Regions from separate parts of the Homo sapiens genome. Here all the other regions are linked to region 3. Evidence: fine-mapped expression QTL. A gene starts in region 3. Each other region holds a variant in brackets. All regions are shown on one strand. Distances are from middle to middle. Region 1 overlaps STAM (signal transducing adaptor molecule). Region 2 has its middle 61 kb from the start of HACD1. Region 3 holds the start of HACD1 (3-hydroxyacyl-CoA dehydratase 1). Region 4 overlaps STAM (signal transducing adaptor molecule).

Region 1 (8,207 bases), 82 kb after region 3:
TTAAGTTTTGTGAAGGCCAGAGTTGTTTGCTTTTTTATTATGATTTTTACTTTGTAATGGCTTTTGAAAAATATTGTTCCCTACCTCAAGGTCCTAAAAGATAGTTTTCTGTATTGACTTTTAGTAGCTTTAAAGTTTTGTTTTCGTATTGTTTCTTTTATTACTCTAAAACAAGAGCGGAAGAGCAGAAAGGGTTCTGTGTTGAATTGAAAGCAGGATAATCAATGCACTGATATTACATTTCAGAGCCTGAGTGACATATGGTGATGGTCTGCACTTGGGAAGTAGTGGTGGAGATAGAGACACGTTTGAGATCTATTTTGGAGGATTTGTTAGGTTGAGTCTTTAGACTGGTAAGAATTACCCTTGGAGCAATAAAATCTCGATTCTCCAAGATTGCCTTTAAGGCTTTGATTTATTAAGTCTGCAGTGAAGCTTGATATTCTTGACTTTCCAGGCAGTTTTGATGATTATTTTGAAAAAAAGGTCAAGGAAAATATCTGCAGCTAAAAAAGAAAAGTAGATTTAAGAGTTTGTATTTTTTATTACCCAGAATAATTTACATTGTATTTGTTCAGTAAAAATAGGAGTTTTCATGCTGTTCCAATTTTGTTAATTTATTTTTAAACTTTCAGTTGTGAATGAATGAATAAACTGACAAAATGATTTTTGTTCAATGTATCAGGATATGTTCTAGTTTCTAACTATACTATTGAAGGAAGAATACCTTTTATCTTGATGTCTTTTTCTACTTCTTCAGACTGTTGGATATAATAACATTTTGGGTCTTTAAAAACTCATTGTTTTCTAGCCATTGAGTTGTCTCTCAAGGAACAAAGGCAGCAGTCAACCACCCTTTCCACTTTGTATCCAAGCACATCCAGTCTCTTAACTAACCACCAACATGAAGGCCGAAAAGTTCGTGCTATATATGACTTTGAAGCTGCTGAAGACAATGAACTTACTTTTAAAGCTGGAGAAATTATTACAGTTCTTGATGACAGGTAATGTTAATATTACATTTAAAATTTGTATGAAAGTGTGTATGGCTTCTGTGTTTCATATTATTCCTGTTGATTGCAGTTACCAAATACAATAATAAATATTGACCCAGATGCTGCTCTGTATGACAGTTGGCTGATTTGCTTGTGTTATACTGGGTGGATTCTTATTTTGTTGTTTAATTTTTTTCTTATTTATTACTTAGTTTATAATTTGTTTTGGAGGCCTAGTTTAATCTATTCATTTTCGGTTCCACCTAATAATATAGATGGTTACATTATTTAAAAGGTTACAGTTTTAGAAAAACACTGAGTATGTATATGTACTTAATGCAATTTGTAAGAAATATATAATCTATTGAGTTTTTTTTACACAGAACAGTATAGCCATAGGGAACAAATTTATTTTGTATGGAATTACACATTTATTCAGGAGGTGATACAGTGCATCAGTTTATTTTTTTACTATAGCTTTGTGATGTTTTACTTGAAAATGAATTGTTACTGATGCTTGTTACTGATAATGAAGTATTAAAATTTGCAGGTGTTTTTTAAAAATCAGTTCAAATTGATTTAAAGTTCTTCCTGTAGTGTCTCTCTTACTTACTGCCTTAGTCCATTTGGGCTGCCGTAACAAACTACCGTAGACTAACTGGTTTATAAACAACAGGAATTTATTTCTCACAGACAGATTGACTGTGTGTTGAAGGCCCACTTTCTGGTTTGTAGAAGGCTGTCATTTTGCTGTGTCCTCCCATGGCAGCAGGGGCAAATGAGCCCTCTGGGGTCTCTTTTATAAGGTCGCTAATCTCATTCATGACTTAATCGCTTTCCAAAGTCCCCACCTTCTGATACCATTGCTTTGGGGGTTAGGATTTCAACCTGTGAATTTTGGGAAGACACAAACATTCAGACATATTTTAACATTTTTTTTTTTTTGAGTGGAAGAAAATAAAGTTTGAGCTGGTTAGCTGGAAATTGCCCAAAACCTTACGTCTGTTCTTTCAAAAACATGTATTGAGTGCTTGCTAGCTTTCCATATACTAGAGTTTACACCTAGGAGTGTACTCTTTGCGAATGTTTTGCACTGTGAACAGTGTCATCTTTGACATTCGTTCTGTTGGGAGAAAAAAAAAACCTTGCTGCTGTGTACCAGAAAGAGCAATGATTTAGGAATGGAGACTGAAAATAAGAGCCTGTCTTTATAGCTCATTACAAAGACTTCTTACTCTGGAGCCTGTGAACCATCTGAAGCTGACAATTTTTTCGTATTGGTGCCTCTTTTTTTGGGAGAGAGTCCATAACTGCAGAGCATGCATTGGCAGTCAAGAAGATAAACAACTGTGTGTTGAATAGCTTCTTACCTTTTCTGAGGCTTCTTCTTCTTTTGTAATAAAGGAAGATTCATTGGCTTTTTCAGTGGGTTATTGTGAGATTCAAATTTTGTAATAGTGTAAGTTGAATACTACAAAAGATAAAGATGTACAGAAATAAATACATTTGTTATGGTAAAGCATTGTTTTTTGTTTGTCATAGTGATCCTAACTGGTGGAAAGGTGAAACCCATCAAGGCATAGGGTTATTTCCTTCTAATTTTGTGACTGCAGATCTCACTGCTGAACCAGAAATGAGTAAGTATTTTCCAGCCTGCCAATAAATGATGTTTTCTAATCCTTTTCTTAATGGAAGTTGAGTAAACTGAACTTTTTAGAGCAGTGTTGCCCAGGCTGGAGTGCAGTGGTGCGAGCTCGGATCATTGCAACCTCCGCCTCCTGGGTTCAGGTGATTCTCCTGCCTCAGCCTCCTGAGTAGCTGGGATTACAGGCACCCGCCGCCATGTCCAGCTGTTTTTGTGTGTGTATGTATTTTTAGTAGAGACAGGGTTTCACCATGTTGGCCAGGCTGGTCTTGAACTCCTGACCTCAGGTGATCCACCCGCCTCAGTCTCCCAAAGTGGTGGGATTACAGGCGTGAGCCATCGCACCTGGCCTAACTTTTCTTTTTCATATGTATCTATGTAGAGGTCATTGTAAAAATGCAAATTCATTAAGAAGTCTTACAGAATTTATACATTATATATTTTTCTTACCAGTTGATTACAGTGTGACAAGTACAGTATAACCTCAGGGAGGATTTTTCTTGTTCAAAGGTTGGGACCGTTTCTCTAGTGTGTAGTCCCAGACTTGAAAGCAGTGTTCTCCAAGCAACATGTCAGATATTCAGAAGGAGCCATTTTTACTAATCATATAAAAGTTTTTTGTTTGATTTACAAACCCTGCTGAGTAGGATAATAAACTAGAAAGTGGGGCCGTGGAGAAAAAGTGATACTAGTGGCAGGCTTAACAGTTTCAGGAGACATAGCTACATAGTCGGTCAAAGTAGTGAGAGACAGTTTACTATATTTCTACATAATATTGTGCTTTAATGAATCTTCATAATGATGAGTTTAGTCATCAAGCAAAGTTTAAGTCATAATCTCCCCTCTAGGAAAACAGAAAAATATGTTCAAATCTAGAAAGATTTGTATTTGTAATAAAATATTTAAAATTTTTAAAGAGCTTATAT[G/A]TATAGGTTGATATGCTACAGTTATTTGGCAAAATATCTCATTATCGTTTTTTAATGCTAGATAGAAGGGATCAAAGAAAATTACAAACCACAAGATGCTTAGGTGTTTTTTAGTTTATAAGAATTTTAAGAAAAAAAATCTTTGTCCTGGTCATCTTTTTATTTCCAGCAGCTCCTAATAGTGAGTCTTATAATACATACTACATATTTATAGAATAAATGATACAGAAATATATATGTTAACAATAAAGAGATACTTCACTTCTCTTTCAAGAGAAGGCTTGAACAGCAAACCAGAAATTACAGATCTTTAAGAAAATGGTGCGCTCTCATAGTTATTGCCAGGGTGTCTGGTGTCATTTTTATAGAGACAGATTGGTGAGACCCAGTCTTTCAATGATGTTTTCTATGTCTGTGAGAATTCAAAAACATGTCAACCTTGTTTAAATGGCATTGCGTAGTGTGCTGACTTTTTAATAACCTGGGCTGGTAATGATGTTTTGTTTGTTTTTGGACTATTTTTTTGTCCTGAATCAGTTCCTGGAGAGGATAGAATTGCTTGGAGTTCTGTTCAAGATAAGGTCAAGGATCTCATGTAGATCCTGGAGCCATTTCATCTTTTTTTTTTTTTAAGTCATATAGCAATGCAGCTTCAATATGAGTTTTCTAGTTTTTCTCATGTTTTTCACTCTGGACGATCTAAAAGAGAAACTGAAGCATCAGAGCCTATGTAGTGGGGTTGTAGTTCTCAAGCGTGGAGAACAGGTGCAGGTGCTAGCATGATCCCCAGAGCATCATTCTTTTGAGGAAATAGAAGTCTATTTCACTTAGCCTGTCAAAGAGAAATAGCTGCCCTATTTAGCTTGCTTTTGGTTTGGAGATACAGTAAAATATTGTGAAATCCCTTTGTTATATATTGTATATAAATAATATATTTTTTTACACACACATAGTATTAGTTCCTGTGAGAAAAGGGGTTGCAAACTTGCGCGTCAAGAGCTGTTAGAATATGAAGTCTGCCATGTTTTTCTTATGGGTAATGGCCAATGCAGTGCTATCCCAGCTTTCTACTTGTAATAGCTCAAGATATAAAAAGCAAAATGTCTGCAGCAGATGTTTCTTTTCCTTTATAGGAAAATGAATCAGCTGTAGAATTTTGCTTTTGGTGACTTGAATGGAATGATTATATTTCTTAGGTTGGAAATTAAGCTATTTCTGTGTTATACAGAAGCACACAACACGGAGTACCCAAGTGATTGGACTTCATGTTCTCGGGGTAAAATCACTGGCACAGGCCAGATTTCAGTAGTATGGGCTAGTAGAGCAAGATAGATTGGCATTCAAATCCAGGCTTTGTCATTTATTAGCTTTCTCTTTTACAAAAGTTTTTAATCTTTCCAAACTACCTTATTTATAAAAAGGGCATATCTCATAAGATTGGGAGATTCATTGGAGGAAATGTAATATTCCATCAAGCATATTCAATAGTTTAATAAACATTATTTCCCTTCCTTAAATTGCCCCCTCCTGTCTTCCTTTCCATCATGATTCTTAATATTTTTATGAATTGATTGACCACATTGATGCAAGGATTAAAAATATAGAAAGGAAGTTTGTTTAGTAGAGTTGTATATGCCTTTCAGTAGTATTTGGAGGTTGTTATATAGCTACTGTTATGTTAAATTGTTTTTAAAGATTGCTTTGGTGAGTAGGAGAAATCTGTGCTTCTGGCCAATGAATTGTTGATCCCTCAATGACCACTTTTTAATGTCAAATGATAATATTATATAACTAGAAAATACAGGCTGATTTGTTGGAAGACTGAGACCCCTGTCAAGGCCACCTGCAAAGTTCTCCACTGGCATGGACGGCGCTCTCTAAACGCCTACGTGGCACGCCAGATAATACATAGCTGATTTTCCCATTCATTACATTGGAGTAGTGTGGATTTTCTGTCAAACCAGATTTTTTTTTTCTACCAAATGAGATTTTTTCTTGAAGGATTAGTAATTTAAAAAGAGGGTTTATTTTAAATTGCAGAATTCACTTAGGCCATTGTAAAACTTTGCTTTTGTCCTCCAGCTTACTAAACTCTGATGTGTAGTAGGTGATTAACCTTTTTTCAGAAATACAACTCTTATTATTAGTGAAATCTCTTTTTATGGAAACTGTAAAATGTTTACAAGAGAAAATTAAGAAATCCAATTTCATAAAGTAATGTTGTGTTATTACTGCCAAAATCTGCAACTCAGTTATTTCTTAAATTGCGCCTTTTAGCTTGCTGGGAGTATAAGAAAAATCCCCAAATCTCTCTTGGAAGTTAAAGTGCTTTAAAGTAGAATTTTAAATGTATTATTAAAAAAAGATAACTTTTACATATCTTACAGTTAAAACAGAGAAGAAGACGGTACAATTTAGTGATGATGTTCAGGTAGAGACAATAGAACCAGAGCCGGAACCAGCCTTTATTGATGAAGTAAGTGGTTTCCATGGTGATAGGAGTTGGTACTTTGTATTGAAATTTAAATGGTTTTGCTTTAAGAAAAAATTGATTACTTGAGTTTTTTTGTTGTAAAAATTTTTGTATTTTTTTATAAAAATTCAAGCAATATAGACGATGCAGACTGTTTTTTGAAACTTCCTCTCCAGTCCTTTGTTTGCCGTGCCAGAGCCTCATTATTTTAAATTCCTGCTGAATATTCTGTAGAGTGGCCTTACCATGATTTATTTAATCTATTGTTGAATGCCTAGGTTGTTTACAGTTTTTACAGTGTAGTAGTGAGATTTTTTTTTTTTTTGAACATCTATCTTTGTGTTTCTTTAGGGTAGATATTCAGGAGTGAAACTATTGAGTTGAAGGATTTGTGTATTTTCCATGTTAATAGATAATGTCAAATTGTTGAGCAAAACAAGTTTTTACACTCGTATTCATATCATGCGAGAACTCCTGTTTCCCAGCATACTCAACAAGGATATTAAGATTGTTTGCACATGACTGAGGAAGGGACACTCATTGACTATCTATTGAAACAAATAAATTACTGTTGTAAAAATAAAATTGTCATTAAATTACTTCTACATAAATCATTGCATAAAAGCAGTGCTAATATATTGAATATCATTGGAGATGATTCATGATTCCTCCTTGTGTTGAACACTTTCTAGTATTTGAGGAAAAGCTTACGCTAATTTTATATTAAATGTCTTCATATGTCATTGTCACACCTGAAACAATGTATATTTTTAGTAATTATGCTCAAAAATATAATATCAACTTGGTGACACACCATACTTTTTGGAGCCACATAATGGTACCCAAATTGGTATTATTGGGATTTAAATTTGAGATTTCTTGAATTAAGTTAATCACTCCTATTTAGTTAAGTTTTATAGAAATATCTGCTGTTACTGCATATAAAGAAAAGATTAAAACTGGCTACCTTTTTCATCTTTAAGCGTGTTTATGAAAAAATAAAAAGTATGTTTGTGGTTGTCTTTTTCTACTCAAACTTATTACCATGTTTTAAAAATAACATTAACAACTGTTGAGTTAATAATACATTAAATTATGCAACTAGCAAACCATTAAGGATTTTTGAAGTGTCACATTGTATAGATCAGGAGTTGGCAAACTCTTAGGCCAAATTTAGCCTGTTGCCTGTTTATTGGAACACAGATAAATTTGTTTATATATTGTTTGGCTGCTTTTGTGCTGCAGTGGAAGAATTGAGTAGTAGCAACAGAGATCATATGGCCTGCAAAGCCTGAAATATTTACTGGCGGGCCATTACAGAAAAAGTTTGCTTGGCCCTTGGTATGGATAATTTAAAGAGAATCTTTTCCGATCCTCAGTTACCATAGCATTCTTTCCTAAAATTGATCTGCCCGAGAACATTCTCTCCTACCATTTTCGTTTTTACCCCCCTCCTCTCCCTTTTCAATTCTTCTCTCCAACTTTACGGAAGAAAGGCTTACCGCTTGCCCGTAGTGAAGATTACTGTGGTACATTGCCTCAGAGTATAAGAATTACCAGGGATGATTTCATATACTGGTTTTGGTATTAAGAAAGTCATGGCTCTAATGACTAGTTAACACAGCTGAGATGGTTCCATATTTTTTGTTTTTAAAAAATAGGACCAAAATGAATTTTCAGCTAGTAGATCATTAAAAATAATTTTTAATGACAGACCACTGTCATTCCATTCCATCTTTCAGAAGATACCGAAAGAACTTAATGAAATTGCTATAATAGCTTGATTATATGAACAAAATTTCTCCTCACTTTCAACTATAAAAACAAAAAATAGGAATAGAACTGGTGCTGAATCCTGGCTCATTTTACTTTTCAAAACTTGAAATATAGTTAATGTTGTTTTGACCCTTTGCATATTAATAATAATAATCATTACCTTATACATATGAATGAATCTAATACTGAGAGTATTATCAGTTTACATACTTTTAGTGCAAAGAAATCCCATATGGTCATCGGTAGAAAACTTTCAAGTATATTAGGATAAAATTTTGGAGGGGAAATTGAGTAGAAATATGATAAGTTCAAGGAAAAAAACAATTTGAAATACATGACAGAGACTGTTGTTTGAATGGTAATGGTGAGTGCAGATTGCTGTGGTGTTTAAA
Region 2 (8,207 bases), 61 kb before region 3:
GGTGAGAGAGAGTTTTCCCTACACGAGGCCTTCCCAGGAGACTGCACATGGAGGGAAGGATCCTGTGCAGAATTCTGGGGAGGAGGGTAGGCTGGATCAACAACAAAAGCAGTAGAGAGACTGAGAAGGGAAAAAGAAGAGATTGATAAAGGAGGGGATTTTTAGTGCCTGCCGCAAAAGGAAAATCTGGGGAAGTGAGAGGTAGCTAAGTAGAATGTTTAGGAATTCTTCTGTGTGCGATGCTGAATGAAACTACTAAAAAGGAAACTTACAAGAAAAACCTATGCTATTCTCAAGACTTTTGGAGTCAGACTGCAGCTACCATTGCCTTTCTGTTCCTTCTTCCTTTTTATGAAATACAGGCCTACATCACCTGGGGCCAAAATGAGGGTTTCTTTCATTTTGTTTCAGATTTTCTAAGATTTTGTTTTCCTCTTCTCAGTGTTTTTCAAACAAATCCCTTCCTTTCCACCATGACTCGAATCTTCTTTATCTTACAACTGCATGTTACAAAGGCTTAATTTGCTTCTCTCATGGTTATCCTGAACATGATCACCATATTAATATCAAATGTTGGCTGCGCACAGTGGCACATGCCTGTACACCAAGCGCTTTGGGCGGCCGAGGCAGGTGAATTGCTTGAGCCCAGGAGTTCAAACCAGCCTGGGCAACATGGCAAAACCCCATCCTATGAAAACATTCAGAAATTAGCCGGGTGTGGTGGTGTGTGCCTGTAGTCCCAGGCACCTGGGAGGCTAAGATGGGAGGATCGCTTGACCACCGGAGGTGGAGGCTACAGTGTGTCGTGATTGTGCCACCACTGCACTCCAGCCTGTGCAACAGAGTGAAATTCTATCTCTAAATATATGTGTGTATGTATAATATATATAAATATGTATATATGTATACATGTGTGTAATATATACTTGTAAAAATATATGTGTGTATATATGTTTACACATATATACACACATATATTTTGTATATACATATATAGTTTTATATATGTATATATGTATATATAATGTAATATCTGCATTTAATTCTCTCTCAAAAATTCTCAATAGCCTCGTTTAAATTCTTCAGCCTAGATCCAAGACTCTTTAGAATTGAAACCTGTAAATTATTCAACAGCGTCTGCCAAGACTGTGGGGACAGATCTGCAGATCAGCTAACATCCTCTCTAACCCCATCGCCCTCTTCCCATTCCCCACCCTACAACTCACAAGACAGTCCCACCACCACACTCCTGCTCATACCATTTCAATCTGGAATTTCATCCCATTGCAATCCTATGCTTTTTTTCAGGACAAAAATCAAATGAAATGTTTTCTTAACTTTTTTTAGCCCATAATTAGCATGCTGTTCTCCAAATGATTATCTATTTCACACACTTGTGTCAGTAAATAGAGTGTAATTGGCTGCAAGCTCAATAAGAAGAGGCAGTTGATACATGTAACAAAATAAAAAGTGAGTTAGTCGCTACTCTTGCACCTCTCAGTTATAAAATAGTGCAGGAATCTCGGTGAAGAATGACGTTATTACATTTCCCAAGCGGCATTTCAGTGGGGGTCTGGTTCTTGGTATGAGATGTCTGTCCTTGTCCTTAGATATCTTGATGGTCTTTACTAACAAGAGCTATAAGATGAATGGGATAGAAAAAGAAGAGGGCTTATTTTGGTAGAATGCAGTCCTCGCCTTTGCAAAACCAAGGGCACAACCCTCAAAACAGTTGAATTTATGGTTATATGGGCCAGGTGCTATGGCTCATACCTGTAATCCCAGCACTTGAAGAGACTGAGGTGGGAGGACTGCACAAAGTCAGGAGTTCAAGACCAGCCTGGGCAACATGACAAGACTGTAGCTCTACAAAAAATAATTTTTAATATTAAAAAATTTATAGTTATGTGGGTAACAGGATGAATTGGCGTCTCACTCACTGGGCCACATAAGTACTGCTAGAGTAGGGAAAAAAGCCTGGTATGGCCAGGCAGAGAAGACATAGAGACGGAGAACCCACCATACCTAACATCACCACCACCACATCCTCCACCTCTCCCTCCATCTCTGTCTCACGTTGGCTTCCCCAAAGTCATAGATCCAGGGCTAAGAGGAGTAAATAATGAAAGTGGGGATTGCATGTTTCCTGGCAATACTTTCATTAAAGGACAGAGAAGAATGTGCATCAGAGAAATTCAGTCTAGTGCTATCAGCTGCAGGCTGGTTGGAAATACAGGCAAATCTCCAGTGACGTGACCAACAACTAGGGGATACAGGGAAGGAAGACTGAGCTCTTCAACCGCGTGAGTTCCAGACTGAGTCTGCAGGCAGTTAATGAGATCAGTGGGTTTGGCCAACAGAGAAGACAGAAACCTTACCATCACCAAAGTAGGGTTTCTTATATAAGGGGACGACAAAAAGGGGAGAGCCAGCCAGCTCTCTATTAGCAGTGACATAAGGACGTGACTTTTATCCTTGTGATGGTTATACTGAGTGTCAACTTGATTGGATTGAAGGATATAAAGTATTGATCCTGGGTGTGTCTGTAAGGGTGTTGCCAAAAGAGATTAACATTTGAGTCAGTGGGCTGGGAAACGCAGACCCATCCTTAATCTGGTAGGCACCATCTGATCAGTTGCCAGTGAATATTAAACAGGAAGAAAAATGTGAAAAGGAGAGAGACTGGCTAGGCCTCCCAGCCTACATCTTTCTCCTGTGCTGGATGCTTGCTGTCTTTGAACATCAGACTCCAAGTTCTTCAGTTTTGAGACTCAGACTAGCTCTCCTTACTCCTCAGCTTGCAGACAGCCTATTGTGGGATCTTGTGATCATGTAAGTTAATACTTAATAAACTCCCATATAATATATGATATATAATATATGTCACATATCATATATGATATAGATATATGTCACATACCATATATGATATATAATATATGTCACATACCATATATGATATATAATATATGTCACATATCATATATGATATATAATATATGTCACACATCATATATCATCTATTATATATCATATATCATATAATATTATATATCATATATCATATATGATATGATATATATTATATAAAATATATATTAAATATATATATTTATGTTTATATTAAATAACATATTTAATAATATATATGATATATGACATATTTAATAATATATAATATAATATATTTAATATACATAGATCCTCTAGAGGGACAGAACTGATATATCTATATTATAGATTATATATGGTAATATGTATAATAGATAATAGATATTACATATTATCAGTTCTGTCCCTCTAGAGAATCTATATATATGATATATATATATATATCAGTTCTGTCCCTCTAGAGAATCTATATATATGATATATATATATATATATATATATCAGTTCTGTCACTCTAGAGAATATATATAATATTATGATATATATAAAAATATATACATCAGTTATATATATTATATATATTCTGTCCCTCTAGAAACGACAAATACAGTCCCCCTCTTTGTCTCCTCTCCACATCAATAGCACAATACTACAGTGAGACATTCCCAAATCCTCCATCCTGGAATCCTAGTGTCTCAAAAACAGAGGTATAGCGGCCACATTACAGAAATGAACAGTCTCATCCTGTGAATCACTGGTAAGAACATATGTGGAATATTGTTCTTAGTCCTGCGCATCAGATGTTAAGACATTTTTAAAAACTGAAGTGTGTAAAAAAATTGTGTAAAGTATAAATTAGATACAATAGTGTCTCAAAATAATTTCCTAAAGAATATTTAAAGAAACCAACCAGACACAGTGGCTCATGCCTATAATCTCAGCAGTTTGGGAGGCTGAGGTGGGCAGATAGCTTTAACCTAAGAGTTTAAGACCAGCCTGGGCAACATGGTGAAACCCCATCTCTACAAAATATACAAAAAATACAAAAATTAACTAGCTATGATGGCATACAACTGTAGTCCCAGCTACTAGGGAGGCTGAGGTGGGAGGATTGCTTGAGCCCAGGAGTTCAAGGCTGCAGTGAGCCATGACTCCACCACTGCACTCCACCCTGGACAACAGAGCAAGACCTGTCTCCAAAAATATATATATGTATAAAATATATATTTTATATATATATTTATACATATATATACTATATATATATACACACACACACACACACACACACACACATATATACTATATATATATTTAGGCTGGGAGCCGTGGCTCACGCCTGTAATCTCAACACTTTGGGAGGCCAAAGTGGGTGGATCACCTGAGGTC[G/A]GGAGTTCGAGACCAGCCTGGCCAACATGGTAAAACTCTGTCTCTACTAAAAATACAAAATATTAGCCGGACGTAGTGGTGCATGTCTGTAATCCCAGCTGCTCAGGAGACTGAGGCGCAGGAGAATTGGTTGAACCTGGGAGATGGAAGTTGCACTGAGCCGAGATTGCACCACTGCACTCCAGCTTGGGCAACAGAGCAAGGCTCTGTCTAAAAACAAACAAACAAAAAAGAATATTTAAAGAAACTGATTGTCTTTAACCTGAAGGAATAGGTAAATGTCTTTAGACATTTGAAGAGATGCCATGTGGAAAAATTAGACTTATTCTCTGTGGTTTTAGAAAGCAGACAAGGAGTAAATGTGTGAAAGTTACAGGGATGCAAATTTTGTCTTAATAGTGGGAATGGATGAACGTTCAAAAAAGTGAGGATGGCCTGCCCCAAAATGGATGGTGCCATCACTTGACATATTTGTGCAGGGGCTGTATATTAATCCACTAGGGCTGTTGTTGAGGAAAGCTCAGCACTGGAGCGAAACTGAAGCAAATGATCTTCAAGTTCCACCTCCCATTCCACTTCTAAGATTTATATTTAATGATTTCTTATGTCGCCCAATTTTTAACTCGGTTTCTGTTTGTTAATTCTTATGTATGTAAATCTTGTTCTCTCATTTGATAGAAATCATCTGCCAGGAAAACGGTCTGTATATATGGTGCATAATGACAGGCATACCTAAGATGATCATTACATAATCAGGTCCCTAGGATTATTATCTTGTGATCAGAAAAAACTTTTAAGAACATCTGGTCTTATCCTGGCCAACATAGAGAAACCCCATCTCTACTAAAAACACAAAAATAAGCTGGGCATAGTAGCACGCGCCTGTAATCCTAGCTATTCAGAGGCTGAGGCAGGAGAATCTCTTGAACGCAGGAGGTGGAAGTTGCAGTGAGCTGAGATTGCACCACTGTACTCCAGCCTGGGTGACAGAACAAGACTCCGTATAAAAAAAAAAAAAAGAACATCTAGTCCCCTCTTCTGATATTTAAACTTCCGCTACATTATTTCTCCCAAATGATCCTCCTCTTTCCCCCGCTACTTGAATACCTTCATTGATGGTGAACTCACTAACTCACAGGAGCTCCATACCATTTTTAGGACAACTTGACCACAAATTTCACTGTCTCAGTGATCTGTTACTGAGTAACAAACCACACCTAGAATTAATGTCTTAAAATAACAGTGATCTTTATCTGTGGATTGGCTAGGTGGTCCCCCACTGGTTTTGCCTGGGCTCAATTAGGTGGCTGCTTTCAACTGAGGGACGATCTGAGCTGGAAGATCCAAGATGGCCTCACGTGCCTGACTGACAGATGTCACTGGCTATTGCCTAGAGCTCTTTGTTTCTCTCTCATGTGACCTCTCATCCTCCTCCACACTAGCCTGACTTCATTATATATCTTAGGACAGAATTCTAAAAAAAATGAAGGCAGAAACTCAACAGCCTCTTGACACCTAAGCTCTAGGTTGCGTACACATCACTTCCACCATATTCTTTCAGTTAAACCACAAGGGTGATCCAGACGCACAGGGATGAAGAAAAAGACCCCACTTCTGAAAGGAAGGGACGGGAAACCCACACATATGTGTGAGGACATACATAACAGGAGGGGTGAAATGTGACCCTGTTACACAATCTAAAGTATTTCAAGAAGGCTGGGCGTGGTGGCTCACGCCTGTAATCCAGCAAATCCCAGCACTTTGGGAGGCCGAGGTGCGTAGATCACCTAAGGTCAAGAGTTCAAGACCAGCCTGGCCAACATGGTAAAACCCCGTCTCTATTAATAATACAAAAATTAGCCGGGTGTGGTGGCGGGTGCCTGTAATCCCAGCTACTCGGGAGGCTGAGTCAGGAGAATCGCTTGAACCCAGGAGGCAGAGGTTGTAGTGAGCTGAGATCACGCCACTGTACTCCAGCCTGGAGGGGACAGAGCGAGACTCTGTCTCAAAATAAATAAATAAATAAATAAAATGAAGTAAAATAAACAAATAAAGTATTCAAAGAAATTATACAGAAGTCTTCCTGCCTCTAACTCTTCCTATGATAGGTCCTTGAACCTCTGTCTTGGTCTGTTTCCTATTGCTTATAACAGAATACCTGAAACTGTGTAATTTATAAAGAAAAGGAATTATCTTTTACAGTTATGGAAGCTAAGAATCCAACATCAAGGAGCCACATCTGGCAAAGTCTTTTTTTTAATTGAGATAAAATATACACCTATAATTTACCATCCTTACTATTTCTAAGTGTATAGTTCAGTGGTAAGAAATACATTGATGGCTGTTGTGATACCTCGGTTCTTGCCTTCTTAGTTTAAAAGAATTTAAACAAGAGACTGGGCGCGGTGGCTCACGTCTGTAATCCCAGCACTTTGGGAGGCCGAGGTGGGCAGATCACTAGTCAGGAGTTCCAGACCAGCCTGGCCAATATGGTGACACCCCGTCTCTACTAAAATTACAAAAATTAGCTCGGTGTGGTGGTGCGTGCCTGTAGTCCCAGGTACTCGGGAGGCTGAGGCAGAATTGCTTGAACCCGGGACACGGAGGTTTCAGTCAGCCGAGATTGCATCACTGCATCCCAGCCTGGGTGGCAGAGCAAGATTCCGTCTCAGAAAAAAAAAAAAAAAAAAAAAAAGAATTTAAACAAGAGACATACAGTGTAGGGCATGCAGCATAGAGTAATTTATTGCAAAGGAAAAAGAATATTTTGAAAGTTAGGTACAGAATAGACAGTACATCCTCAGGGAGAGAGGATTCAGGGCAAGCTGCTCATAAGGACGAGACAGCAAAGACCGTTACTAGGGAAAGGGAGTCTTACATGATTATTCATGAGGGAGTGGGAAGAGGCGTTGCTAGTAAGCATGTTCTGGGTGGTCTTCTGGGTGCACATGTACAGTAGCTGTACATGCTTCTTCATACATCATATGTCTCATTAGCATCTTAAATCTCCACACTGGGGTGTGTTTTTTACTATTATAATGATCAAAGGGTGAGTTTGAGGACAGGTAAAATCAAAATATGTGTGCACTCTCGAGGAGAAAGTCCCTACTGAAGATAACTTTGCTTGAATGAGCTCAACTACAATGCAAATGCTGAGGCTTATTGTGTTGACTGTACAGTCACCACGGTTGCTACGTCCCAAGAACGTGGTCATTTCCTTGACTACCCATCTTGCCTCAAATACATTTTTTGTTTTTAGATGGAGTCTCGCTCTGTCGCCCAGGCTGGAATCAAGTGGCATTTTCTCAGCTCACTGCAACCTCCGCCTTCCCGGCTCAAGCAATTATCCTGCCTCAGCTTCTCCAGTAGCTGAGATTACAGGCACGCGCCACCATGCCTGGCTAATTTTTGTATTTTTAGGTGAGATGGGGTTTCACCGTGTCAGCCAGGCTGGTCTCGAACTCCTGACCTCAAGTAATCTGCCTGCCTCGGCCTCCCAAAGTGCTGGGATTACAGGCATGAGCCACCGCACCCAGCCATGCCTCAGAAACATTTATATCCTTATTTTTCCCTTCATCCCCTTTCCCTACTCCTTCCTGGCCTCTGGTAACCACAAGTCTGCTCCCTATCTTCATGAGTTGCACTGTTTTTAGCTCCCATACATGAGTGAGAACATGAGCATCTGCTTTTCTGTGCCTGGCTTATTTCACTTAACATAATGGCCTCCAGTTCCATCCATGTTGCTGCAAATGACAAGATTTCATTCTTATTTATGAAATAAAATTCCATAATGATATTCCATTGTGTATATATACTACATTTTCTTTTTTTACTTTTCTCTTTTTTTTTTTTTTTTTTGAGATGGAGTCTCACTCTGTCTCCCAGGCTGGAATGCAGTGGCACGATCTCGGCTTACTGCAACCTCT
Region 3 (8,207 bases):
TTCAAATTAAGATGACCAGGTAAGGCCTCCTTGAGAATGAAGTTTTGAGTAAAAACTTGGAAGAGGGGGCCGGGCGCGGTGGCTCATGCCTGTAATCCCAGCACTTTGGGAGGGCGAGGCGGGCGGATCACGATGTCAGGAGATCAAGACCAACCTGGCCAACACGGTGAAATCCCGTATCTACTAAAAATCCAAAAAAAATTAGCCGGGCGTGGTGGCGGGCGCCAGTAGTCCCAGCTACTCAGGAGACTGAGGCAGGAGAATGGCGAGAATCCGGGAGGCGGAACTTGCAGTGAGCCGAGATCTCCCCACTGCACTCCAGCTGGGTGATAGAGCAAGACTCCGTCTCAAAAAAAAAAAAACAAAAACAAAAACAAAAAAACTTGGAAGAGGTCAAATATTCATATGAAAGATAAAAAGAAAATGAAAGTGTGTGATAGGCTGATAAAATAACAAGCTGTATTTTACATTTATGTAAAATTTTATAATATTTCTTAAATACTATTCCGTTGCTTTGCAATTTGGGGTGTGTGTGTGTGTGTGTGTGTGTGTGTGTGTGTGTGTGTGTGTGTGTGTTTTGTTTTTGAGATGGGGTCTCGCTTTGCTGCCCAGGCTGGTCTTAAACTACTGGACTCAAGCAATCCTCCTGCCTCAGTCTCCTGAGTAGCTGGGATTACAGGTGCATACCACTGTTCCCCACTTGTTTTGAAAATTATTACAAAAAAATTAATAAACACGCCAAAGTTCTGTTAACAGAGAAATAAGTTAAATGAACAAAAAGAGCCTCAACTAGTCTTCTGCTGTCCACCCTATAAAACGTGTAAGTTCTTGTCCCGATTTCAACACTACAACTTCTTCAACCTTATTTACCACTATTCCCCAACAGCACCCTCCAGTTCAATCAAGAGAATACATCAGGCTTGCATATCATGCCTATTTCCAGAATTTATATCACCTGAAATGTCTACTCTCTATGTATGCAAATCTTATTCCTTCTTCAAATCTCACCGCCTCTAGAAAGCATCTGAAGAGTCAGTTACAGAGATTATTCCATTTCAATATCCCTTATTTTTGTAAATATGACAAGGAAACTTCTCAGTAGAGGCAGAAGGAGACAAGTTTAGAACAAGCCCTGATTTGCCGGGGAAGGGTCAGAGGGACAGAATGGAGAAAGCATTTAATTCTGCACCAGGTAAGGCAGGAGACCCGGAAAACTTCAAAGAGGTAGATTTGATTAGAAGTCATGGGAATAACAGGAGAACATTATACAAAAGTGAAAAACCTGAGCACAGAAGCAGAGCGCTGTGAAAATACATGGTGCTTTGAGGGACGAGTGAGTCAGAGATATCAAATGCAAGTTGACTGGAAAGGGGAATCGGGAGCAGATTGCAAAAAGCCTTGAATGGCAGATAGCCTGAATCCCTTAGATCAGGGTGGAGGTGGCAGGGAGTCACTGAAGTCTTTAAACTGGAGCTATGCATTGATGTTCATTTTTGAAATATCAGTTGGCTTTCAAGACAGAGAGTCAACTGAAAAGAGAAAGGACAGACACCCAGTTAACACAAGGCAGATATTTCAAAATGTTCACTGGCTGGGCACGGTGGCTCACACCTGTAATCCCAGCACTTTGGGAAGCCATTGTGGGAGGATCACTTGAGAACATCCTGGGCAATATAGCAAAAACCTGTCTTTACAGAAATTATTATTATTATTGTTTTATTTTTTTGTGTGAGACAGAGTGCAGACTGGAGTGCAGTGGCACGATCTCTCAGCCTCCTGGGTTCAAGCGATTATCGTGCCTCAGCCTTCCAAGCAGCTGAGATTACAGGCCTGTGCCACCATGCCCGGCTAATTTTTGTATTTTTAATAGAGACGGGGTTTTGCCATGTTGGCTAGGCTGGTCTCAGGCGATCCACCCGCCTCAGCCTCCCAAAGTGCTGGGATTACAGACGTGAGCCACCGTGCTCGGCCTACTCTACAAAAAAATTTTCAAATTAGCTGAGGATGGTGGTGTGCGCCTGTAGTCCCAGCTACTCAGGAGGCTGAGGCAGGAGGATTGCTTTGAGCTTCGGGGTTGGGGCTGTAGTAAGCACCACTGCACTCCAGCCTGGAAAACAGAGCAAGGGCTTGGCTTAACAAAAGAAAAAAAAAGGAAATAACAAGGAAACGTTTATTTTATTTTATTTTATTTTATTTTTTGAGACGGAGTCTCACTCTGTCGCCCATGCTGGAGTGCAGTGGCGCGATCTCGGCTCACTGCAAGCTCCCTCTCCCGGGTTCACGCCATTCTCCTGCCTCAGCCTCCGGAGTAGCTGGGACTATAGGCGCCCGCCATGGCGCCCGGCTAATTTTTTGTATTTTTAGTAGAGACGGGGTTTCGCCGTGTTAGCCAAGATGTTCTCGATCTCCTGACCTCGTGATCCGCCCACCTCGGCCTTCCAAAGTGCTGGGATTACAGGCGTGAGCCACCGCGCCCGGCTCCGGAAACGTTTATTAACCAGACTATCACAGAGGTGAGAGAATTCTTTCAGTTCCGAATGCATTTAAAGGCAGCATCATTTCGTGATTGCTGAATTGTTGTAAATACATTAGTTTTCTCACTTTCCAAGAGTATAATTTAGGAGGAAAGAAAGATGAAGTAGCAGGACAGTGGAGTCAGAGAGTCCGGGTTGAAACCCATGTCTGACTGACACTTGCTGGCTGTGATCTTGGGCAAGTATCTGTGCCTCACTCTTCTAATCTATATAATGTAATATCATGTGCCCCTCACAGGACTTTAAAGGACTAAAAATACACCTAAAATAACCAACACAGTCCCCTGCATAGTAAGTCCTCAGTAAATAACATTTGTATGAACTGTATTTGGCATTCAATATCATATGCTAAGCACATAATAGAAACTCAATCACCATAGGTAAAGATTTATTAAATTTTTGTCAATCACATTTTTCTATAAACCCTGGAGAAAGTTTAAAATATTAAGCCGGAAGTGGTAATCCCAGCACTTTTGGAGGTTGAGGTGGGAGGATTGCTTGAGGCCGGGAGTTTGAGACCAGCCTAGCCAACACAGTGAGAGGCCATCTCTATTTTTAAAAAATTAAAATAAAATATTAGGCCCGGTGCGATGGCTCACACCTGTAATCCCAGCACATTGGGAGGCCGAAGTGGGGGAATCATTTGAGGTCAGGAGTTCGAGACCACCCTGGCCAACATGGTGATACCCTGTCTCTACCAAAAATACAAAAATTAATGGGGCGTGGTGGCCCACGCTTGTAGTCCCAGCTACTCCGGAGGCCGAGGCAGGAGAATCGCTTGAACTCCGGAGGCTGAGGTTGGCAGTGAGCGGAGATCGCGCCAATGCACTCCAGCCTGGGCGACAGAATGAGTCTCCGTCTAAAAAATAAAATAAAATACTGTCAGGGCGGGATGGCTCACGCTTGTAATCCCAGCACTTTGGGAGGCCGAGGCGGGCGGATCATGAGGTCAGGAGATGGAGACCATCCTGGCTAACATGGTGAAACCCCGTCTCTACTAAAAATACAAAAAAATTAGCCAGGCGTGGTGGCGGGCGCCTGTAGTCCCAGCTACTCGGGAGGCTGAGGCAGAAGAAAGGCATGAACCCGGGAGGCGGAGCTTGTAGTGAGCCGAGATCCCGCCACTGCACTCCAGCCAAGACCGAGCGAGACTCCGTCTCAAAATAAATAAATAAATAATAAAAAGAAAAAAAGAAAATAGTAAACTTTTCCTCGCGTTTACATAAGTTAATACTTCGAGTGATAATGGGAAAATAACTTTTTTAAAAGGCAGTGCAATTGAGAAATGGAAAAGCATTTTCCCAACAGGTTTTGAGAAGCAGTTGACACAAAAGTCACTTTGAGAGCTCTGCGAAGAGCGACAGTCATTGTGTAACCTTAACTTGCAAAGTCATACTCAAAGCCAAAAATCAAGGTCCAGCTTATCAGCCACGGAGCCTGAGGCCATAAAGATGCTGGGCAGGAGCTCCACGCTGGGATAAGTGGGGTGGTTATTTCAAAATCGTCCCAAGTGACAAGCTCTAGGACGTGCTGTGCTTTAAAAAAAAAAAAAAAAAAAAGTCGCGGTGAAATTAACAGGGGCGAAAACTCTGCCCAGCGATCGCAGCATGAAGCTCTGCGCTCCCGAGACCATCGAGTGGCCAGGGCTGGGCGCTCCTTCAACAGCAGCGAAGGCAGCGGCGCCGGGGCAGCAGCCACCTCCCCCGCGGGCCGGCACCGCATTCCTGCCCGGTTCTATACTTAACCTCCGGCCAGCGCCCCGCCGTGCACCGTATTAGGCAATGCCAGGCGCGCAGGGCCCGGCCCCCCCGCCCGCTCCATTCAACCCCGGCGGTGGCCGCGGCGACAGCTCCCTTCCCCCACGGCCGCTGCCCGCACCCCCCGCGCCCCTTACACCCCGGCCCGCGCCCCCTGAACCCGGAACCTCCGCGGACCGCGGCGCGGGGAGGGCCCGAGGGTGCCCCGCGGCGCGCGTACCCCGCGGTCATGGCGATGTCGTAGAAGGTGAGCCAGGCGGTGGCCAAGACCCCCAGGCGCCTCCGCTCGCCGGGAGCCTCCCGGTCCTCGCCGGCCTCCGAGGCGCCGCCGTTGGTGCCGTCCTCGTCGCTGGACGCCATGGTGGCCGCGCACCTGGGGGACGTGGGAGACAGCGGCAGGAGCGTGGGAGGGGACCCTGCCCAGCCTGCAGCCCGAGAGCCGCTGCCCGCTGCCGCCGCTTCCGTCAGGCGCCCCATGTGCAGCGCGCAGGGGGCTCGGCGCAGCCAGCTCTACCGACCGCGAGGGGGAGGAGCGGACGCCCCCGGCCACCGCCCGTCACGCCCCCGCCCCGCCCCGCCCCTTGGGAGCGCGCGCCACTCGGGGGCCAGAACGCCTGGCCCTGGCACTGGGGATCCAGGACCCGCGAGCCCCGGCACGCTTTCCAGGCGGCGCTGTAGTTTCCGCTCCCGAGGAAAGTGCACCCGCCTCGCTAGCTGCGGGCGCCTCTTCATAGAGAGACGCCCAGACGCCTTGCGCCCTGGCGATGCGCACCCTGCGAGTGCATTTAGTGGGGACACAGGGAACGCACCTGAACTTGGCGTGGCTCTGCCCTGCCTGGCCTTTTGTAAGGCAGTTTCTCAATACGCAGGCAGGGAGCGGGATCTTCCCGCCACTCATTCTTTTCTTTTTAGAGATGCGGTCTCAGTCTGTCTCCTAGGCTGGAGGGCAGTGACGTGAACATAGCTCACTGCAATTTCGTGAGCTCAAGCAATCTTCCCACCTCTGCCTTCCAAAGTTCTGTGATTACAAGCCTGAGCCACAGCGCTGGGCCAAACATTCATTCATTCTTAAGAGCTTCTGGGGAAGAAACGCCTATTTCGCCCTGTTTCCCGTTTACTAGCGAGTCCAACAGGTCTTCCAACAGTGAGAAGACCGTCCCACTTGAGTGATTTTTTTTTCCTTTTTCATTTCTTATTTTTTTTTTTTTTTACAGTCTGGAGTGCAGTGTTGTGATCTCGGCTCACTGCAACCTCCGCCTCCCTGATTCAAGAGATTCTCCTGCCTCAGCCTCCCGAGTAGCTGGAACTACAGTCATGCACCACCACGCCCGGCTAATTTTTGTTATTTTTAGTAGAGACGGTTTCACCACGTTTGCCAGGCTGGTCCCGAACTCCTGGCCTCAAGTGATCCACCCGCCTTGGCTTCCCAAAGTGCTGGGATTACAGGCGTGAGCCACCGCACCCGGCCTCACTTGTGTGAATTTTACCGGAGCGTGTGTGTGTGTGTGTGTGTGTGTCTGTGTGTCTGTGTGTCTGTGTGTGTGTCTATTTACCAAGTGTCAGGCCTCTGAGCCCAAGCTAAGCCATTATATCCCCTGTGACCTGCACGTATACATCCAGATGGCCTAAAGTAACTGAAGAATCACTAAAGAAGTGTGGCCGGTTCCTGCCTTAACTGATGACATTACCTTTTGAAATTCCTTGCACCTACTGAAATACAACCCCCAAATTCCTGAATCCTCCCATTTTATTAGCTGTGTGAACTTGGACAACGTAACCTATCCATGCCTCAGTTTCCTTAGTGGAAATAATTTTTAAAAATCGTGAGCAGAGATCGCCCGTTGCACTCCAGCCTGGACGACAGAGTGAGACTCTGTCTCAAAAAAATAAAAAAAAAAGGAAAGGAAGGCTGGGTGTGGTGGCTCACCCCTGTAATCCTAGCACTTTGGGAGGCCGAGGTAGGCAGATCACTTGAGGTCAGGAGTTTGAGGCCAGCCTGACTAACATGGTGAAACCCCGTCTCTACTAAAAATACAAAAATTAGCGGGGCATGGTGGCGGGCGCCTGTAATCCCAGCTACTCAGGAGTTGAGGCAGGAGAATCGCTTGAACCCAGGAGGCACAGGTTGCAGTGATTTGAGATCGCCCCATTGCACTCCAGCCTGGGTGACAGAGCGAGACTTCTTTTCGAAAAAGAATAAAAATAAAATAAAGGGAAGAAAGAAGTAAAACTGTTTGCAAATGAGAGCAATGTGTTTCCTAGAAAATCCCAGGAATCTCGAGGAATCCTAAAAAAAAAAAACCTCCTGGAACTACAAGATCAACATAACAAAAATCAATTGTTTTTCTACATGTGTACACGGAACAACTGGAAAATGAAATTTAAAATAAACCATACAACGTTAATCAGCATCCAAAAACATGAACTATATAGGCATAAATTTCACAAAATATGTGTGAGACGTATACACTGAAAATTATAAATCATTGCTCAAAACTATAAATCTCTGCTGAGAGAAATGAAAGATCTAAATAAATAGCTGTTGCCTGTTCATGAATTGGAAGACTCCATACTGTTAAATGTCAATTCTCTCCAAATCCCAGCAGATTTTTTTTTAACTTGACAAGCTAACTATAAAATTCATGCAGAGGTACATAGGAAGAAGAAAGTTGGAGCACATATACATCTGGTTTAAAGACTTACTATAAAACTAGTTTTCAACACACTGTGGTACACATAAGGTGAGACATAGAAATCAGTGAAACAGAATCAAGTCCAGGGATAGACCCATATGTATGTGGTCAATTGATTTTTATAAGAAGCTAAGGTAATTTCCATGTGGAAAATATAATCTTTTCAGTAAATGAAATGACTGGATACCCATATCAAAAAATAAATCTTACCTCACACCATAGATAAATATTAAGTTGAAATGAATGACAGACCTAATCATGAAGCTATAATTACATAATTTCTAAGAAAATACAGAACAATCTTTGTGACTTTGGGGAAGGTGAAGATTTTGGAGGTAGAAAAAAGCACTAATCATAAAAAGGAAATAAAAGACAGATTGAACTTCATCAAAATGGGAAACATCTGTGTTTTCAAGACAACATTAAAAAAGTGAAAATATTCACGACAGATGTCTCTAACAAGGAATTTGTATCTGGAACATATAATGAAAGCTTACAACTTAATAAAACAATTCAATTTTTTGAAATGAGCAAAAGATTTGAATACACACTTCACAAAGATATAGAAATGGCCAATAGCCGGCCAGGCACTGTGGCTCACGCCTGTAATCTCAGCATTTGGGGAGGCTAAGGCAGGCGGATCACCTGAGGTCAGGAGTTTGAGACCACCTTGGTCAACATGGCAAAACTCCGTCTCTACTAAAAATACAAAAATTAGCTGGGCGTAGTGGCACGCCCCTGTAATCCCAGCTACTTGGGAGTCTGAGGCAGGAGAATCACTTGAACCTGGGAGGCGGAGGTTGCAGTGAGCCGAGATGGCACCACTGCACTCCAGCCTGGGCTACAAGAGCAAAACTCCATCTCAAAAAAAAAAAGTAAAAAAGAAATGCCCAATAGCACATGCAAAAGTGCTGAATCTTATTAGTCATTTGGGAAATGCAAATTAAACCCACAATGAGATAGCACCACACAACCACTCAAGTGGCTAATATTTTAAAATGTTAGCAGGGATTGGCATTCTCATACAAGGCTAAAAAGAATACTGCTTTGGAATATAATTTGGCAATTTCTTACATCAATATACACTTACTTAGCATATGATCCAGTAATTTCACTCTTGGTATTTAACCAAGAGAAATAAAAACATATGTCTACACTAAGTCTTGAAACCAAATGTTCATAGCAGCTTTAGTAATAGTAATTCAAACTGAAAATAACTCATG
Region 4 (8,207 bases), 33 kb after region 3:
TTCCATTCTGCAGTTAAATAATATGTCTAGAGGGCCTGCTACAGTACCTTTATGTGGTTGGCACTTACTAGATGCTACCTTTTTTGTTCCACCTTAAATGAGTGTCCTGAATCTTAGCAGTGGACAGAACCTTGGAGATCACCGATTATACTTAATGAATTGGAAAATTGCATTTAATTTAATAAGCAGTTAGCACACACTACAGGACACAGCAGCTCAGTGACATAAGAGATACAGTGATGAGCAAGGCCTAGTTGCTGTTCTCAAGCAGTTTTACATCTCACTACATGAATCTCTAGGGGAAATACTTAAAACAGCTTCTTAATACTTGCTTCTTCTGTTTACAGCACCTTTGTCTAGTTTTCTTGGTCCTGTATAATTTAGCTAGCAACTACCCAATCACCTTTATATTCTACTGACTTTGTGAACACATATTTGCATTGGATTCAGGTAAATTTCTTAATGTCAAACCCGTTCCTAGTAGCTGTACCACCCAGTTCAAACACAGGCACCTTCTTGCCTTTATGCTTTTGTCCTACGCTTATGCTTTCTTTTATCTTTCAACATATCCTTGTGTGTTAAGGCCAACTCAGAATCCAACTTGTTACACCTGAGTCATTTCCTGATTACTGTAGCAAAGGGTTTCTCAGTAGCAACGTTATTGACGGTTTGGGCCAGGTAAATATCTTTGTCATAGGAGTTTGTCCTGTGCAATGTAGGGTGTTCAGCCTTATCCCTGGCCTTTATCCACTAGATGCCGGTGACACCCAGCCCCCACTCATGATTTTAGAAGTCTCAGGACATTGCTAAATGCCCCCTGGAAGGACAAAATACCTCCCAGTTGAGAACCGCTGCACTAGTCCACTCTAATTTCCACCTTCTTACAAAATCCTCTAACTTATTTTAGCATTTTTGCCTTTACCGAATTATTTAGCATTCAAGATAGTTTTATACTCCTTAATGAGAGGTTGCTACATAGGAGGTGTTTAATAATGTTTGTTGAGTTGAGAATGTGTCAGTTGAGCCTGCCAGACATTATACTTCTTCAGTGTAGCAACATTGTTTTGCTCCAGAAAAGCTTACTTTTTAAAGTTGCTCAGGTTTTGGTATTGGACCAATTCTCTTCTCACAATCCTTGTATTGAAATATTACAAAAGGTTTATCTAAGAAGACCCCTCAGAGATTCCCAGTACATAAGCCTTGCACAGAGTCCAGTAGACTCATATTATTTTTTAATAGTATAACATATAGAATACAGTGTATAGAATACACTTAACAATTTTTTCTTTCACCATATCTACCAATGAATATGTCATAACATTAAAGTAACTCATTTGATACAGTTATTTATCACTTAACACTCGTATACATTTGCACATCTTCAAAATTAATTGTCTTCAGTCTTAATCTGAGGCTGAATCAGAAATTCACTGACTGATTTATATAATATAACATTTTTTATAAAGAGACACAATGCTGGTGATAGCTTTTCCCTTGGAAGAAACACCGAAAGATGTTACTAGAATGTGAGCTCTGTGAGGACAGGGATTTTTGTTTGATTTTTTCACTGCCGTATCCCTAGCTGTAGACCAGTTTTTGGCATGCTGAAGAACTTTCAGTAAACATTTATGGAATAAATGAATCTCATTTTGGACATTATAATTCAAGAGCTGAATTTAGAAGAAACGTAAAGATAACTTATTTCATCAAGTTTGTATTTCAAAGTCTCTAGTGACTTCCACCTTGCCAAATCCAATGGTCACTTTCTAGTCCATTTCTTTTTTGATCTCTTAAGCATTCCTCTTTGATATACAGTATTTTATTCATGGGATTTCAGGACACCAAACTTTTTCTCATTTTCTACTTAGCTCCTTTTAAATTTTTTTGCTTCCCCTTTTTGCAACTTCTAAAAGTTGAGTGCCCTGCGGCTCAGTTCCGGAGCCTCTTCTCTCCTTCCACTTTTTTTTTTCCCTTAGAGTATTAGGAAGCAATTTAGCTTAGTGTTAAGAATTCAGACTGGGGCCACACTGCTTGGATTCAGTCCCAGGTTTGCTGCTTACCGGTAGTGTGATTTTTGGCCTAGTTGCTTAGATAATCTGTGTCTCAGTTTCCTTATCTTTAATATGGAATATAAGAGTAATAATAGTTCTTACCTCAGAGAGTTGTTAAGAGGGTTGAGTTAATATTTGTAAAGCACTTAGAAAAATTTCTGTACTTTTTATTAAGTAAGATTTTAAAAAGAACCTCATCTAATTTCTTAGCTTTAAATACCTAGCGTATTCTGGTGACTCCTGGATTTATGTTCTTACTCTCAGCCTCTTGCCTGAGCTCTCGACCTAGATATCCATCTCCTTACTGAGCATCTCCATTTGGATTCTGCTTAGAGTCTAAAAACAAACATTCAAAAACTCAATTCTTAGTTCTTTGCCCAAACCTGCTCATTCCTTCATCCTTGCCCTTCTCAGTAGACGACAACATGATTACTGTTTCCTGTCACTGAGCTCCAATGTCTAGGAGTATCACTGATTCTTCTTATTTCTTCACACTTCACATTCATCCTATCAGCAAGATATTTTGGCTGTACTTTAAAAATATATCCAGAATTTCATTGACAGGTGAAACTAGCTGGACTTCCTGGGTCAAGTGGGGACTTGGAGAACTTTTCGGTCTTACAAGGGGATTGTAAAATGCACCGATCAGTGCTCTGTAAAAACGCACCAATCAGTGCTCTGTAGCTAGCTGGAGGTTTGTAAAATGCACCAATCAGTGCTCTGTAGCTAGCTAGAGGTTTGTAAAATGGACCAATTAGCACTCTGTAAAATGAACCAATCAGCAGGACATGGGCGGGGACAAATAAGAGAATAAAAGCTGGGCACCCTAGCCAGCAGCAGCAACCGGCTCGGGTCCCCTTCCATGCTGTGGAAGCTTTGTTCTTTCACTCTGCACAATAAATCTTGGTGCTGCTCACTCTTTGGGTCCGTGCTACCTTTAAGAGCTGTAACACTCACCACAAAGGTCCGTGGCTTCATTCTTGACGTCAGCGAGACCACAAACCCACCAGAGGGAACAAACTCCGGACACATCATCACCTTTTTCTGTCTCACCATTCTTACCTTACTTCAGTCATTGTTATCTCT[T/C]ATAGTCAGTGGCAAGAGCCTTCTGGTAGGTTTCTTTGTTACCACTCTTGCCTCTACAATCAGTTCTCATTTACAAAGGTCAGTGATCTTTTAAAAATGTTAGATAATGTCAGTTACCTGCTCAGAGTTCTCTGGTAGCTTCCTATCCTACTTAAAGGGAAATGCAAGTTTTTTTATTGTGGCTCACAATATGGCTTCTTCCTGTGTGTCTGATATGATTATGATCTCCAGACTCACTCTCTTGAATTCCAGGCTTCTTAAATCTGAACGCTCCAAGCTCATTCCTGCCTCTGTAGCTATATGGTACTCTTTGCCTGGGATACTCCTCACCCAGGTATTTGAAGGTCTGGATATTCATCACACCCATTCAGGACTCTGTTCAAACGTCATTTTCTGAGACGCTTTACCTAATAATCTTCTGTAAAAAATATCCTTCTTGGGCTGAATGCAGTGGCTCACGCCAGTAACCCCTACACTTTGGGAGGCTGAGGCAGGAGGATTCCTTGAGGCCAGGAATTGGAGACCAGTCTGGGCAACATAATGAGACCCTGTCTCTACAAACAATAAAAAAGTTAGCTGGCATGGTGGTATGCCTGTAGTCCCATTTACTCGGGATGCTGAATCCAGAGGATTGGTTGAGCCTGGGAGGTCAAGGCTGCAGTGAGCTATGACTGCACTCTTGCCTGGGCAAGAGAGTGAGACCCTGTCTTTAAAAAAAAAAAAAAAAGAATTAAAAAAAATGCATCTTTACCCTCTCACTCTGTTTCTTTGTTCCATTTCTTTTTCTTTATAGTACTTAGTGACCTGACATTAATTGATTGATTATCTTTTGTGTGGAATATAAACTCCATTAAGATGAGAACTTTTCATTTTTTTTCCCCTAATACTTTAGGGATAGTGTCTGGTACATAGAAAGCACTCAAGAATTATTTATCAAATAATGAATTATTGGTGTTTTTCTAGAACATTAGTCTTGTATTTCTATTTGCTGTTCTTTTTTCCCTCCAAAACAAATTCATCTGTCAGAAAACTGAAGTTATCTTTCTAAGTCTGGCTCTTCATTCATTATTTGGTAACATTTTTGTTTGTTTTTAAATCTTTTTTTACATTAATATAGATGGGGTTTTGCCATATTGGCCAGGCTGGTCTTGAACTCCTAGCCTCAAGTGATCTGCCTGCCTCAGCCTCCCAAAGTGCTGGGATTACCGATGTGAGGCACCCGGGCCCAGCCAATTTGGTAATATTTTAGTGTTGTAGTTATCTTGACTTGAAACCCAAGAGGCATCTTTGAATCATTTCCCTGCCTCTGCTAAATCATCATATGTCTTTGTTTCTATAATAGAATATTTGTGTTCCCAGTCAGACTGCTTTGGGCCAGTCCACATCCTACATACTTGGACATTTTTTTAGTCTGCTTTGCTTAGTCCAGTCAGCCTCATAAATCATAAGCTAGATGAATCTTAAATGTTAATGTCACATTCTCCTGAAGTGTGATATGATAGAAAGACCTTGGGCTTTGGGCTTAAATTGCACCTGCAGCATTTACTCTTAGTAAATGGACACAATGTATAGTTGGATAGGTATAGGACCCCTTTGAATTCACTTTCTACTTTGGTAAATAGGGATAGCAATATCCATTATACATCATGCGGATGCTATGAGGATTACTTGTGAAAACACATGACATTCTGACTCTTTACCAGAGTTGAATAGGCTTCAAATATCTCAAGTTCAGCATGTTCAAAACCATTTGAAATTTTTCTTCTCAATTATGCTTTTTGTCTGTTTTGATAGTTGGTACCTAAGTTTACTTAGTCATACAAGTCGTGAACTTGGGAGTAATTCTTGACTTCTGTAGTTGTAATTTTCTACATTCTAAACAACAAATGTATCCTGTCTACCCTGTGCCAGATACCCTGGTACCGAATATGCCCTCAAGGATTCCAGGTTTAGATCACCACTCTCTCAGATTAGTACAGTAGCTTCCAGCTGTTCTTCCCTGCTTCCAGTTTTTCCCTAGTTATTTTCCAGATGGCTGATGGTGATATTTTTAAAATGTGAATGTACGCGTGGCCCCTCCGTTTAAAATATTTCTAGAGAGGGCTGGGCGCGGTGGCTCACGCCTATAATCCCAGCACTTTGGGAGGCCGAGGTGGGCGGATTATGAGGTCAGCAGATCGAGACCATCCTGGCTAACATGGTGAAACCCCATCTCTACTAAAAATACAAAAAATTAGCCGGGCGTAGTGGCGGGCGCCTGTAGTCCCAGCTACTCAGGAGGCTGAGGCAGGAGAATAGCGTGAACCTGGGAGGCGGAGCTTGCGGTGAGCCAAGATCACACCACTGCATTCCAGCCTTGGTGACAGAGCGAGAGTCCGTCTCAAAAAAAAAAAAAAAAAAAAAAAAAAAGTTCTGAAGAATCTACCGCTTTCACAGTACTTTGAACTTTTCAGCAGGGCATGTAAGGCCTCTTATATTTGGCTTCTTTGTGACTCTTGAGCCTCACCTTCCACTTTTTTCTTGCAGGTGTATTTCACTCCTTATTGGTTTTATGCCACTGTGCTCTTCAGGTGTGGATCCTCTGGCTTGACATACCTATTTGTTCATTAATCCTCAGTAGGTTTGTTTTGAGGAGATGATGCATGTAAAGCACTTAGCATAGCACCTGGCATGTAGTAACCAATGGATACGTTTTAGCTCCTTTTATAATCAAGTTAGAAATAGATGTGGGGACTATTGGATTCTAAGGTGTGCAATCAGTTACTGTTAAAACATAGGAGAGAAATGTGAAAATTCAGAATACAAGTATGTTAACCATCTGATATCCACTGGATTAAGAACTTGTATTCTTTGATTCTTCTGTCCCTATTTTACCTCTCCTCTAAGCTGTTTTTTCTAATGCCTTTAGGTTATCATTTCTGTTTTATGTTCCTCTCTGAAATGCTTCCATGCTGTTCTTTTGATACCTACTTCTTTTTCTGGTTAGCAGAGCTTCAGATTACATTTCTTTGCAGATACAGTTTCCAGGAGGATCAGGGATATTAGATGAAAGATTTTTGAAGAATTGATTTGCAAAGAGGATAATTTCTTTCAGACTTACTTTTCCATTGGCCATTTTTAATGAACTGTTACATCTTCGGGCTGACTGAATGACAGTCCTTTCCTCACCACCTAAATGTGATGCGAAGTCCTCCTGTCAGCATTTCTTACCTCCCCAGATCTTTGACAGTGATAAATTTTGAGAAAAATCAAAAGTTGCTGCTTATCAGAAAAAGTTCTCTAATCTTTTGAAAAGACTATTGAAATTCAAATGAGGCTCTGTGTATGTTTTTTCTGGGTACTGCTGGGCAGATTTCTCAATCTCCTCTTTTTGAGTATTAGTGTAAGGATATTCTCAGGATAAAATGAGATCATTATGAAGCTTTGAATTCTTTAGAAGCAAGTCTGTTATTTTTGTCACTTTTCCTTTTCCCACAAACCCTGTTTTTGTCTTAGAAAATAAATAGTTTTGACTTCATTTGCTATTCACAGAACCATGTTGTAGGTAGTTTATATCCTTCTGATTAAAAAAAAAATACTTGTTCTTTTATAACTGAGAAGAATTGTGCCACTGATTTTGATGATTTTGAGACAGCCTCAATAAATGATGTGAACAATTTTAGATTTCTGAAGTGGGTTGTGTTTCTGATCCATCCATACAAATATGAATCAGATGCTGATTCTATTTATGTGTAGGAAAGTAATAAAGTAGTTCATGAGTTTTCAACATAATATCTGCTGATAACTGTATCATATGTTCCTGGATGTATCATTAATCAAGAACTGTAAGATAGCACTCAACTATGATAGTAGGCAATTTATATTTGATCAGATAAACTGTTAACTTTTTAATAAGTTTTAATATGCTTAGCTATTATGTTTTTGAATAAGGTGGCAGGTTTTAGAATTTAAGTGTGTTCTTTTAAAAAATGCACTTAAAAAAAAAACAACCTGCTTGGCTACCAGTCAGTGAGAATGATGAATTAATTATTAAAATGCACTACCAGACCAAAGTAATAACATGCTTTCCTTTTCTAAGATGAAGTAAGTGATATTGTTCAGAATGACTCACTCAATATTCTTGGGCTTTAGAGGGGTTGAGTACCTAGGGAGCAGGCTCTGGGACTCCTCAATCAGAGCACTTCCACTTGGGTTTGCTGTATATATTGGGTTTCTTTTAAGATAAAATTCTCTTATAGTGTTGAATGATAAATAATTTGACTAGTCTTTGTTTCCTAGGAGACAGCCTCTAAATCCTTGGAATTTTCTGAGTGATAAGAGCATCTTTGTTATTTTTGGTGGGCCCCTGGGATAATAGCTTAGTTTATGCTAATAAGATGACTTGGTCTGGGGGCTGGCCACTCCAGAAGGACTAACCATGTGATTAAAGGATTTGGGCTTTGAGTCATAGGACCTCCTGGGAAGGATAGGGACCTGGAGATTAAGTTCCACTGTGTGGTCCTATTTCATAAATCATACCTATATAATGACACCCCAATTGTAGAATCCATGAAGGTACATTTCCCAGTCCATCGAAACCTACACTGAAAAACCGAATATTCCGCGATAAAAACTGGAAACAAGCTATTTGTGAAAATGCTTTGTGATGTGTGGATTCATCTCACAGAGTTAAATGTTTGTTTTGGTAAAACAGGTTGTTTTGATAAAACAGGATAAAAACTCTGAACACTGAAGCTCAGTTAAGCATTCTGGTAGGTGATACACATTGTGGTGATACACACTGATGTATTTGGAGGGTGATGAAGCTTCCTAGCACAGAAGCTTTATGTTTGGAACCCTCCCAGATCTAGCTCCATACAGGTGGTTGTTTGTATCTGGGGGTCTGCATTCATGGATTCAAACAACAGTGGATCAAAACTTGTAGAGGAAAAAATATCATGTCTGTACCGAACACATAGAGACATTTTTCTTGTCATTATGCCCTATACAGTATAGTTATTTACATAACATTTACATTGAATTAGGCATGATAAGTGATCTAGAGAAATTAAAGTATATAGGAGGATGTGC

The links.
Region 1: its variant is fine-mapped to the expression of HACD1 in lung (TOPMed, PIP above 0.99).
Region 2: its variant is fine-mapped to the expression of HACD1 in whole blood (INTERVAL, PIP 0.92).
Region 4: its variant is fine-mapped to the expression of HACD1 in whole blood (INTERVAL, PIP 0.90).

Annotation. Positions count from the first base shown.
Region 1 is chr10:17,694,238-17,702,444 of GRCh38, forward strand. STAM (signal transducing adaptor molecule) reads left to right here. Exons shown (of 14, transcript NM_003473.4): 7 at 812-1,004; 8 at 2,538-2,632; 9 at 5,954-6,042. Among named protein-coding and RNA genes, the nearest start is that of TMEM236, 54 kb to the right of the region's middle. The variant G/A (reference allele first, on the strand shown) is at 3,567.
Region 2 is chr10:17,552,029-17,560,235 of GRCh38, forward strand. No RefSeq gene overlaps it. Among named protein-coding and RNA genes, the nearest start is that of HACD1, 61 kb to the right of the region's middle. The variant G/A (reference allele first, on the strand shown) is at 4,282.
Region 3 is chr10:17,612,572-17,620,778 of GRCh38, forward strand. It overlaps HACD1 (3-hydroxyacyl-CoA dehydratase 1), which reads right to left and starts at 4,803. Exons shown (of 7, transcript NM_014241.4): 1 at 4,512-4,803. The coding sequence starts at 4,768. RefSeq lists a silencer at 4,344-5,003.
Region 4 is chr10:17,645,546-17,653,752 of GRCh38, forward strand. All of the region lies in intron 1 of STAM (signal transducing adaptor molecule), which reads left to right. Among named protein-coding and RNA genes, the nearest start is that of STAM, 5.5 kb to the left of the region's middle. The variant T/C (reference allele first, on the strand shown) is at 3,138.